2 separate regions of the Homo sapiens genome follow, and region 1 is linked to region 2. Evidence: fine-mapped expression QTL. A gene starts in region 2. The other region holds a variant in brackets. All regions are shown on one strand. Distances are between the middles of the regions.

Region 1 (5,337 bases), 39 kb after region 2:
TGCATCTCTTAGCCTTATGTGCAAATGAAGCTAATAATGGTGCCTATTTCAGGGGTTGTAAAGATCATGAAAATGGGGTTCTCAAACCTGGAGAGATTTTGTCCCCCAGAGGGTATAATTTAAAACAGTCTAGAGACACTGGTCATCAGAGTTCAGAGTGGTGGCAGGGATGGTCTGTCTGTCTCTTGTGGATAGAAGTGGGAATGTTGCCAAATAACCTGCAGTGCACAGGACAATCCCTCACAGCGAAGAATTATCTGGCCCTAAGTGTCAATAGTGCCGGGATCGAGAAACCCTGATATAAAGTGCTTATCCTGGTATAAGGCCAGGATACCAGATGATTTAATTTATGCCATCAGTAGGGGGTCCTATTAGTAGAAAAATGAAGCTTTCTACTTGAAGTTTTTTTTTTTCAACTCCTAGTCCAGCCTAAGGATTAATTTTTTTTTTAAAAGGATAAAAGTGCTTCACAGTTGAATAACTTGAATATTCCCCCCTTTTATTTATCTATAAAAAGTGAAATGAGAGGGGAAAAGCAGCAAAAGTCATGGAGAAACAAACTTACATTTGTTTATAGATGTCAATTTTAATAAAATGTTTATGTAGTAGAGAAATTTCCAGTGTTCAGATTAACTTCAATTCTGAAAACTCATCTATGTTTGAGAATACACTCTTTTTACAGGGCAAACTTATATCATTCTTATGTTATCTTTTAATCATTTTTAATATGTTAACATTTTAATTTTTTTATTTTTTGGAATCTTTGCAGGCATTGTAAGCATTTATTAATTTTTTTGTGTGTGTTACTTTTCTTATAGGTGTTACCTCATTTTGAAAGTCTTGGGAAACAGGAAAAAATTCCTAACAAAATGTCAGCTTTTCGAAATCATTGTCCACATTTGGATTCAGTTGGTGAAATAACAAAAGAAGATTTGATACAAAAATCCCTTGTAAGAAACAGGTTTTTTCTTCCTTGAAAAACTATTCACTTTTCTCTTGAATGTGTAATTTTCATAAATTACTGTAATACTCTATGAGCAGTATTTTAAAAATATGTATGATGTCATTAGTGCATTAGTGAATTGTATGTGTTTGTGTCAATATAACCAATGTTGTCTTTTTAATTTCTTTTTATAGGGTACTTGTCAGGATTGTAAAGTCCAAGGACCAAATCTTTGGGCATGTCTGGAGGTGTGTATATGTTTTTTCCTGAAAAGATTGCTATAATAATAATAAATTTGGATCTGAATAATCATAACCAGAAAATTTTTGATACTTAAAGTGATTTTTGTAAATTAAACTTGCTTTTAAAAGGTCATTATTAATAACAAAAATTAAACTTTGGAAAGATCTTAATCTGTAGTGCTTTTGTAGTTTTTAGTAAATCACTCAGCTATTTTATGCTTGCCTTTTATTAGAAATGACATAGCTTTTAGCTTAGAAATATATCCTGGTTTTATTTTGTGCCTGGAAACATTTGGTTAAATTTAATGACTGGAAAGTCATTTACTCATTGAATGTAAAACAGGTAATCCAAACTTAATTGTAAATGTAATTGTAATGCTGTTATAAATTTACATGTATATTATAAAGTACCTTATTTTTCTTCCTATATAATTATTTATAGAATAGATGTTCATATGTTGGCTGTGGTGAATCACAAGTAGATCACAGCACCATACATTCTCAGGTATGTATATAAAAAATTTAATGGAAGACTTGTTAAAAAAAGTGCCTGAAGGAAAGGGAAAGCCAGTATAACATTATTAATTCAAGTTGTAATTCAAATTTGCACTCTAAGTTAAAACTTCACTTACATTCTCTGTGAAGGATGGGGAAGGGAATTGCTAGGAGGATGAACATTAGAATGAGGTTGTGATTAAGAAAGCACTGATTTCAAAAGTGTACATCCGGCCAGGCATGGTGGCTCACGCCTGAATCCCAGCACTTTGGAAGGCCAAGGCAGGTGGATCACCTGAGGTCAGGAGTTCGAGACCAGCCTGGCCAACATGGCGAAACCCTGTCTCTATTAAAAGTACAAAAAAATTAGCTGGGTGTGGTGGTGGGCACCTGTAATCCCAGCTACTCGGGAGGCTGAGGCAGGAGAATTGTTTGAACCTGGGAGGCGGAGGTTGCAGTGAGCCGAGATCGTGCCATTGCACTCCAGCCTGGGCAACAAGAGCGAAACTCCATCTCAAAAAAAAAAAAAAAAGTGTATATCCAGATATTTGAAGGTGATAGCTGGCATATTAGGAGGTTGAAGCCCAAGAGAGAGTGGGTGCTTAGGTTTATGACATGGCCTGGCT[A/G]ACTTCTTTAAGTCTCAGCTCATGTCATATTGCCTTTTCCTGCACATAGTCCTAACTGGACTCACCTTTCTGCTTTGCTCTGGTTGTTTGGTACTTCCCATGTAACTCTGGCATGCCTCTTCTATAGTGTTATGTAGAGCTCCCATTCTAAATGGAAAGTTTCTCGAATGACTTTGTTTTAAGATGCACATTGATACCTCTACAGCATCAACTGTTCTCAACCAGGATTCCTCTATAGAATTAATTAAGCCTGAATACCCAAGCTCTGAGTCATCATTGTATATCATTTGCCTCTTTCTGTGCATCTAAGATGGTATTTGCTGTGTACCACCATTGGGAGAATTGATAAATTAGTCACTCAGATCATTTTTTGTAGGGCTTAATTCTGTAGCAGAACTCTGGTTGTGAAAGGCTAGACTTTTATCTTTCCAAGATTATATATTCTGTATTGCTAGAGCTGTTTTATGCCTTGACTCATGTCATTTGTGTTCTTTTGCCATTCTGATTTCTTAGAATAGTTACTTGCTATTGTTAATTATTTTCTTGTGTTATATTTATTTGTAGACTGCAAAGCAAGGTCTTACACTCTTGCGTTTATCTTTTTGTATAATGAATAGTGAGGGGAGAATGGCAGAGTAATTTCTAGAGTAGGCTTAGATGTTGTTACTGTTTATTATACCTTAGAAGTTTATCTAAAGAATTTTTTTCATGTTCTAAATTAGCTTTTGAGTATATTGTTACTCATCAAAGGCAAGCAGTTTATCTTCTGTTATCTTTTGAAGAAGTCTTTTCAAGTATATGTAATTTTGGTTCCTCTTTTCCCTCTACTGTGAAATTATATAGGAGACAAAGCATTATCTAACTGTGAACCTTACCACTCTTCGAGTATGGTGTTATGCTTGCAGCAAAGAAGTATTTTTGGATAGGAAATTAGGAACTCAGCCTTCATTGCCTCATGTAAGACAACCTCACCAAATACAAGAAAACAGTGTCCAGGTAATAATCTAGATCCACTTAGTTAAGCTGTAAAACATTCCGGTAATAATTTCAGAATTTGTCATGTAGCTGAAATTTTCAAAAGGAATACTGCCTAACCTGTACTTTGAAAATTTCTGTAATGTGCCTTTTTTCTCTCAAATAAAGCACTCAGACTCCCCTTTCTTGTGTTGCTTAGAGTGCTAGATTAGGGTGAGATTGAAGCCCACCTGTTTGAAGATGGAAAAGGCCCTAATGAATTTTTGAAGTTTTTTTTTTTAAATGACTCAAGTAGTCTTTATCTTTTTCTGGTAAGTCTGATTTCAAGAAAGGTGGTGGGCCTTCTTTGATAGCATATGGCAGTTACTAATTCAGCTCTCTTCCCCGTTCTCTCCTCCCCTCCATCCCCTTTGTATTACTGTGAACATTTTACTTATTATTGACAACAAAGTAGAATATAATAAAGCTTAGCATCAGTCTTTGGGTTAAAGATTTTTCTCCCTTTGGGCTGGGTGCGGTGGCTCACGCCTGTAATCCCAGTGCTTTGGGAGGCCAAGGCGGCTGGATCACGAGGTCAGGAGATCGAGACCATCCTGGCTAACATGGTGACACCCCGTCTCTACTAAAAATACAAAACATTAGCCGGGTGTGGTGGCGGGCACCTGTATTCCCAGCTACTTTGGAGGCTGAGGCAGGAGAATGGCGTGAACCTGGGAGGCAGAGCTGGCAGTGAGCCGAGACCTTGCCACTGCACTCCAGCCTAGGTGACAGAGTGAGACTCCATCTAAAAAAAAAAAAGAAAAAAAGATTTTTCTCCTTTTGGATCAAGAGACTTAGAAAACACATGGGTTTGCTTGCAGAATTTATCACTTAATTTTCAGAATTCTTAAAGTCATAGAAAAATAGGAAAAAGGAAATTAACTTAGAATAGTTGGCTTCTTAATCAGATCATCAGTTGATCAGAATTTGATCAGATTTGATTAACAGCAAGTTTTTTTCCTCATGTGTGTTATAGAAATCACATATTTCTGTACTTGTTCATTGATACCAACTGTCAGGTTTTTCTGTTGTATGTTTGTATCACATTCTTATGGTAGATATTTGTGATAATAAATTTGCTTGCCTTACACATGAAAGATGGCTAGATTTTAGTCAAAGAATAATTTCTTGCATTTTCAGTTTCTCAGTTGAATGGCTCTAGTTAATTATAACCATTACTGTTTCTCCCACTTATACCTATTTATCATTCACAAACATGTTTAGTCTTTTTCAAAAGTCCAGATAGTATGAAAATGGCCGTTTCGTTGAATCCTCTTACATTATTAACAAAAGTTTGTCCCACTGAAGATAGCTGAATGGTAATAAGTAGAAAAAGTTTTAAAAAAGAAAAAAGTGTAATGTTATGACTAAAGTTTAATCACACAAGGAACTAATAATATATAAAGGCAAAACTATCAGCATCACTTACTAGAGAAGTAAGTTAAATAAGCTATCTGTTGCCATTTCTGCCAGAAAAGATCAAGATTACAAACTTTAATAAATGTTGAATCTGATAGAATAAGTATACTGATACTTTCCTGATGGCTTGTTAATAATTTTCTGATGACTTGTAAATATGTTAACACATAAAAGGCATAAACTTAATTTCATTCAACTTCCTTATGATCCCATTGTTGAAGAAATTATTCAGAAGAAAACAGTGGTTCAGATAGATTTCTTTAGTGGTCCAAAACTTATATGCTGTTGAAATCCAGTTTACCACAGGATATTTGCAAAATAGTAAAATATTGGAGGCCATGCAAATATTAATAAGATTTTTCAAATAGACATTTTTTCTAGATAGTAAAATTTCAGGTGATTTAAGCCTCTGTACTTCTGTGTATTTAGATATTTTGTAGTGAGCATGTATCTTTTTAAAAGCAATTACTTTATGAAAACAAAATGAAAGTATGAAGTCCACTCAAATGTCCAGTCTCTACAGATGTCAGGAAAGTAAAATCGTTGGGAATTAGTGCATATGCCTGCATTTTAGAGGTAAAGTAAGGCTATAATAACT
Region 2 (5,351 bases):
AAAAAAAAAAAAAATTATTTGCTACACTTTTTTAGGCCCTTCATTTCTGCATACATTTCTATGTTCTCTTTTTCTATACTCCAATAGACTATCCCCTTCTGTTAATACCCACCTGTTTTCAGACAAGTGTCAAAACCACTGATTAAGTAGTGGTTTCCTTTAAAATCAAACACAGCAATACCTCTTAGGGTGGGTTACTACTACTGATGCTTCCCTTAATCCTTACTAGGGATACAGCAGTATAAACTTAATCCCCCCTACCAGTGTTCTAAGTACAACTTTTAGATTCAGTATAGTTAGTTCTACTTGACATACATTTATTTCAGTCAACAACCTGTGATAGAGACATATGATTAAAAAGTACAGAGGAAACCATGAACAGTTAAGAAAGTGAAAAATGGTCCTCTGGAGAATAAGACAAGGGATATAGAAAAGCTGGGCAAAGAATGACTGCTTTTCCTTATAAGTCTGTTTGTAATACTTGATTTTTAAAAACCTGCCTACATGTATTACTTTTTTAATATTACTACAGTAAAAAGGAAGTGGGGGGAAGCTCATTTATTCTTCCCCCTCCCTAAATATTAACACATTTTATTTTGAGAAACATTTTTACTAATTAGATTCTGGATCATTAAGCAATCTATGCTACTGCATTTAAAAAACGTATTGAGTAATTCACCCAAAGTAATTTTCCCTATAATGGAGCATTCCAAATTTTTAAGCAGAATAGAAAGAAAATAAAGCAAACACTTTAATTGGCTGCAGAGATATTCTTAAAAGATTATGACAAACCTCGGCCAGGCGTGGTGGCTCACGCCTGTAATCCCAGCATTTTGGGAGGCCGAGGTGGGTGGATCAGTTGAGGTCAAGAGTTCAAGACCAGCCTGGCCAATATAGCGAAACCCCATCTCTACTACAAATACAAAAAAATTAGCCAGGAGTGATGTCGGGCGCCTGTAATCCCAGCTACTCGGAAGGCTGAGGTAGGAGAACTTCTAGAACCCTAGGGGCGGAGGTTGCAGTGAGCAGAGATCACGCCATTGCACTCCAGCCTGGGCGACAGAGCCAGACTCCGCCTCAAAAAAAAAAAAAAAAGAAAAAAGAAAAAATATTATGACAAACCTCTATTTTTGCATTCTAACTACCTCATTCTTTTTCATTTAATATTACTGAGGAAGTTGATTCCAAACCTAATCATTATTCATTGAAAAACTAAAGAAAAAAAAACAAAAAACTAGTCATTTCATTTGCTTTCAGAAGCATAATAAAAATAAACATGAAGGGGGTTTCATGATTATTCAAATTTATAGACGGAATCTATAAAACATAACCAAAAATATTGTCCTGTGTGATATTACTTGCTCCTCTACATTCCAACTACTGGGGAATTAAAAATAAGTGTCATAAACAGTTTCTTAGACATCTTAAAATTCTATCCTGCAACTTTGACTTTATAATCCAACAGGAAGGAAAGTCTGAAGTATCAAAAAGAAAATTGACGTGAAGCACAAATCTATATAACCTAACTCTGACACTTTGAACAGAGCAAACATGTTTAGCTGCAATAACAACAACAATAAAACAACAATAATAAAGGTTTCAAAGTCCTGTGCAAAAACAAGCTGAGTCTTCCCTCTGGAAAATAGATAATTTAACAACTTTACAGAAGGACCTGACACCACAATACTCCCGTGCTAAATTATTCTCTTAAAGCACCTGCAAAGCAGAGTAATCTTTCACATCCAAAAGCCACTCCCTGCTCAAAACCACCCGCATCCAAGCCGAACCTGAGACCTCACCAGCTGCCCTACCTCCAGCGCGCTCTCCCCCGACCCCACAGCAGCCCCTCGCGGAGCTCTCCTCTGCTGTCTTCCTTTTTCTTTGCCAAGAACACCAGAAAAGGGGGTCCCTCCAGCTCGGCCGTCCAGACCCTTCCTCTGGCTCAGAGCAGTGGCGAGCCCATCCCAATTCCGCGCTTCCTTTGCAGGCCTCCCTCTGGCGTGGGGACCCTCCTGCTTTCCTATGCAAGTACTAACCAGGCCCGACCCTGCTTAGCTTCTGAGATGAGACGAGGTCGGGGGTGTTCAGGGTGGCACGGCCGTAGACCCTCTGGCTTTCCGCCGCTCCACCTGGCACTCCGAGAGCTAACGCCAGCGATGGAGTCCGCGCCACCCCTGCCCCGAGGCCTCTGCCCCAACTGCGTGGCCGCTCAACTCTCCGCTTCCTCCCGCCCGCCTCTCCACCCCACCCCGCCCCTGGCCCTGTACCTGGAGCTCCAGGCCAGGTACAGCTGGCCTGCCCACGCCAGCTTCCCAGCTGATGCCTGGCGCTGAGCAGCAGTCTGACATGGAGAAGGCGGAGTCCTTCCGGGGTCAGGAGTGCGAAGGTGGAGAGAAAGTGGAGGGGGCCTTCCAGGCTTTCTGCGTGAGGGACTACGTGTGAAGCAGCTCCCGCCATTTTTGTTTAGGGTAGAGGCTCCTTCCTCGTCAAGTGGATGCAAAAACTATATTCGAAGAATTGCATCCTTTTACAAACCGGTAAAAAAAAAAAAAAAAAACTAGTATTGTAGTTCGTAACCTGTCGGGGGATCTAGAACGGTTGTCAATCTGGTAAAAATTATGGAGGGTTTCCCCTGGAAAAAAAAAAATGTGTATACACATGCTCATTACATTAAAGAAAAAAAAGTTACACAATTTCAAAACCCTGAAAACAAGATTAAGAACTTCTACCACAGGCCCTCAGCCCTCAGATGAATGAGTGTTAAGAGGCATTCCAATCCGGTATAGATGATGCATTTATTATTGATTTCATGTCCTCTTTACCTTTTTTTCTGTGTTTCCCACTGAATTAGGCAACCGAAGAATATTGAATGTGGCAATTTATTGGCAGAGTAGTCACCTCTCTCAGGTTCTAATACATAGTAAACTAATAGGGGGCCGGGTTAGGAAAAAATAACAACAACAAAACCCAAGGTACTGTTTCTACGTTCAGTCTTCAGTCAAAACATTCCATCAGAACTGCAGATTTAGGCGGGGCACGGTGGCTGAAGCCTGTAATCCCAGCACTTTGGCGGGCCAAGGCGGGCAGATCACTTGAGGTCAGGAGTTCAAGACCAGCCTGGCCAACATGGCGAAACCCCATCTCTACTAAAAGTACAAAAATTAGCCAGGCACCTGCCTGTAATCCCAGCTACTCGGGAGGCTGAGGCAGGAAAATCGCTTGAACCCGGGAGGCGGAGGTTGTGTGAGCCCAGATAGTGCTACTGCACCCCAACCTGGGTGACTAGAGTGAGACTCTGTCTCAAAACAAAAAACAAAACAAAACAAAACAAAACAAAAAAACTGCAGATTTAAGAATTCCAGTTGCTGAGCATATTTGTGGTGAAAAGCCAAAATAATTCTGTTTTCAAAATTCCCATTTAACCAAATGGAAAATAGAATAGTAGTACCAATTTATGATATTATTAGATTAATAATAACTAACGATCCACAGACTGGGTTTTATGTGAAAATATTTTGCACTTATAGGGTAAATGGAGCTCTTGAGACTTGAAGAACCTGAAATTTGTAAGGCTATTTTCATTTATTTTCCCAATTTCCTCCTCTTTCCCATTTCCCACAGCTTCCAAACATTCAACGTAATGAGAATAGCAGTAATGATGATGACTACCACTCAACACAACTTTCCTGAGACCATATTATCTCCTTAATTCCACAATAAACATTATGAGAAAAATAGTATTACACGGTGGGTACAGAGTTTATTCTTTAGCATGAGAATAAGATATGTCACATTTAGGCCAAGTGAGGTGGCTCACATCTGTAATCCCAACACTTTGTGGGGCCGATGAGGGAGGATCCCTTGAGGTAAGAAGTTCGAGATTAGCCTGGGCAATAGCAAGACCCTCATTTCTACAAAATAATAATAAAATATATAAAATAGAAATATCACATTTAATTTATGTTTATAAACCAAATGTAATTTGCTGTAAGCCTCCCTTCTTCTGGTTTGGCAGAGTACTGCACTCAATCTTAGCCATTATTGGATATATTAGTTAACATATTCGCTACAAGTAAAAGAAAACCAAACAAGTAGTGGTTTAAACCAGAAGGACAGGGGACTCAATGTCTTCTGATATTGGAGACAAGGAAAAAAAAATTGGAGCCTGGATTAATTCTGAAGGCCAGTACCTCCCCCAGATAACCAAGCCATCGTGTAATGCTCACTAAACCAGAGAATGGAGTTCATGGAGTACTACCAGTTGTTTCTTCTGTACAAGTACTGCAATACATGCTACAGCAACCATTAATGAATTTAGGGGATCCTATCTGCATAATATCAAAACAAAACTGTGAAGTCAGACTGCCTGGGTTTGAATCCTTTCTTGGCCACTTACTAGATGCATTGTTAAAGGAAAAGAAACACAAAGCTATTTTTCTGTAGTTTCAACACTTCTGACTCCAAATGTGTGGAGGTTTTTCCCCACCAAACAAGTCTCCAATTATTTCTTATTATAAACTCCACTCTTTAATTTAGTGTCTACCAACTGGGTGTTGTACAGTTAAATTTAATTCAATACTATGCACCAAACCCTTAAGGGCTCAGTCCTACAAGACTGCCCCCACTTCAGATACCAATTGCAAATCCCAGGTTGTCACTTGTACTTCTGACCAACCAGCTATAAATCAGGAATTCCCACAATCTTCTCCTCCCATCCCAAACCAGTCTATTGATTTATAACAGAAGATATTACAAAGGATACAGATGAACAGCCGGATGAAGAGGTACATAAAACAAGATCTGGAAGGATCCTAAGTGCAGGAACTTCTGTCCCCATGGAATCAGGGTGTATGACCTTTTTGGGATATGGATGTGTTCACCAACTCAGAAGCTCTTAGAACCCCGTACTTCAGGGATTTCTGTGGAGGCTTCATAATGTTGTTACCAGAAAGGGGTACCAATCCAGATCCCAAGAGAGGGTGCTTGGATTTCGCACAAGAAAGAATTCAGGGCAAGTCCACAGTCCAAAGCAAAAGCAAGTTTAAGACAGTGAAGTGGTGAATGTCCACTTACTCTATAGACAGAGTAGGGCGTTCCCAAAAGGAAGAAGAGGAATGCATCCACTCTAGGTACAATATTCATTTATAGAGGAGTTAAAAAAAAAAAGATCATGGGAAGATGTGCTCTGCTACGAGGGTTTGTGGTAAAAGATTAATTTTCTTAATTACCATATTTTGCAAGAATTAATATTATTATCTTTAAAGCAAAATTAGGAATGCTTTTGCTCTCAAGGTATCAGGGACATCAGGACACTCCCAAGTCTGGGTCTGTTTAGTAAACATTATCAATCT

Evidence for each region. PIP is the estimated chance that this variant, and not a neighbour inherited with it, causes the effect. A credible set is the group of variants that fine-mapping cannot tell apart.
Region 1: its variant is the best candidate, but not a certain one, in a credible set for the expression of MIGA1 in whole blood (INTERVAL, PIP 0.52).

The regions. Positions count from the first base shown.
Region 1 is chr1:77,737,230-77,742,566 of GRCh38, reverse strand. It overlaps USP33 (ubiquitin specific peptidase 33), which reads left to right. Exons shown (of 24, transcript NM_201624.3): 2 at 819-950; 3 at 1,138-1,191; 4 at 1,628-1,690; 5 at 3,150-3,302. The coding sequence starts at 870. Among named protein-coding and RNA genes, the nearest start is that of USP33, 20 kb to the left of the region's middle. The variant A/G (reference allele first, on the strand shown) is at 2,307.
Region 2 is chr1:77,776,653-77,782,003 of GRCh38, reverse strand. It overlaps MIGA1 (mitoguardin 1), which reads right to left and starts at 2,355. Exons shown (of 16, transcript NM_001416120.1): 1 at 2,268-2,355. It also overlaps the pseudogene RNA5SP21. RefSeq lists an enhancer at 2,379-2,468.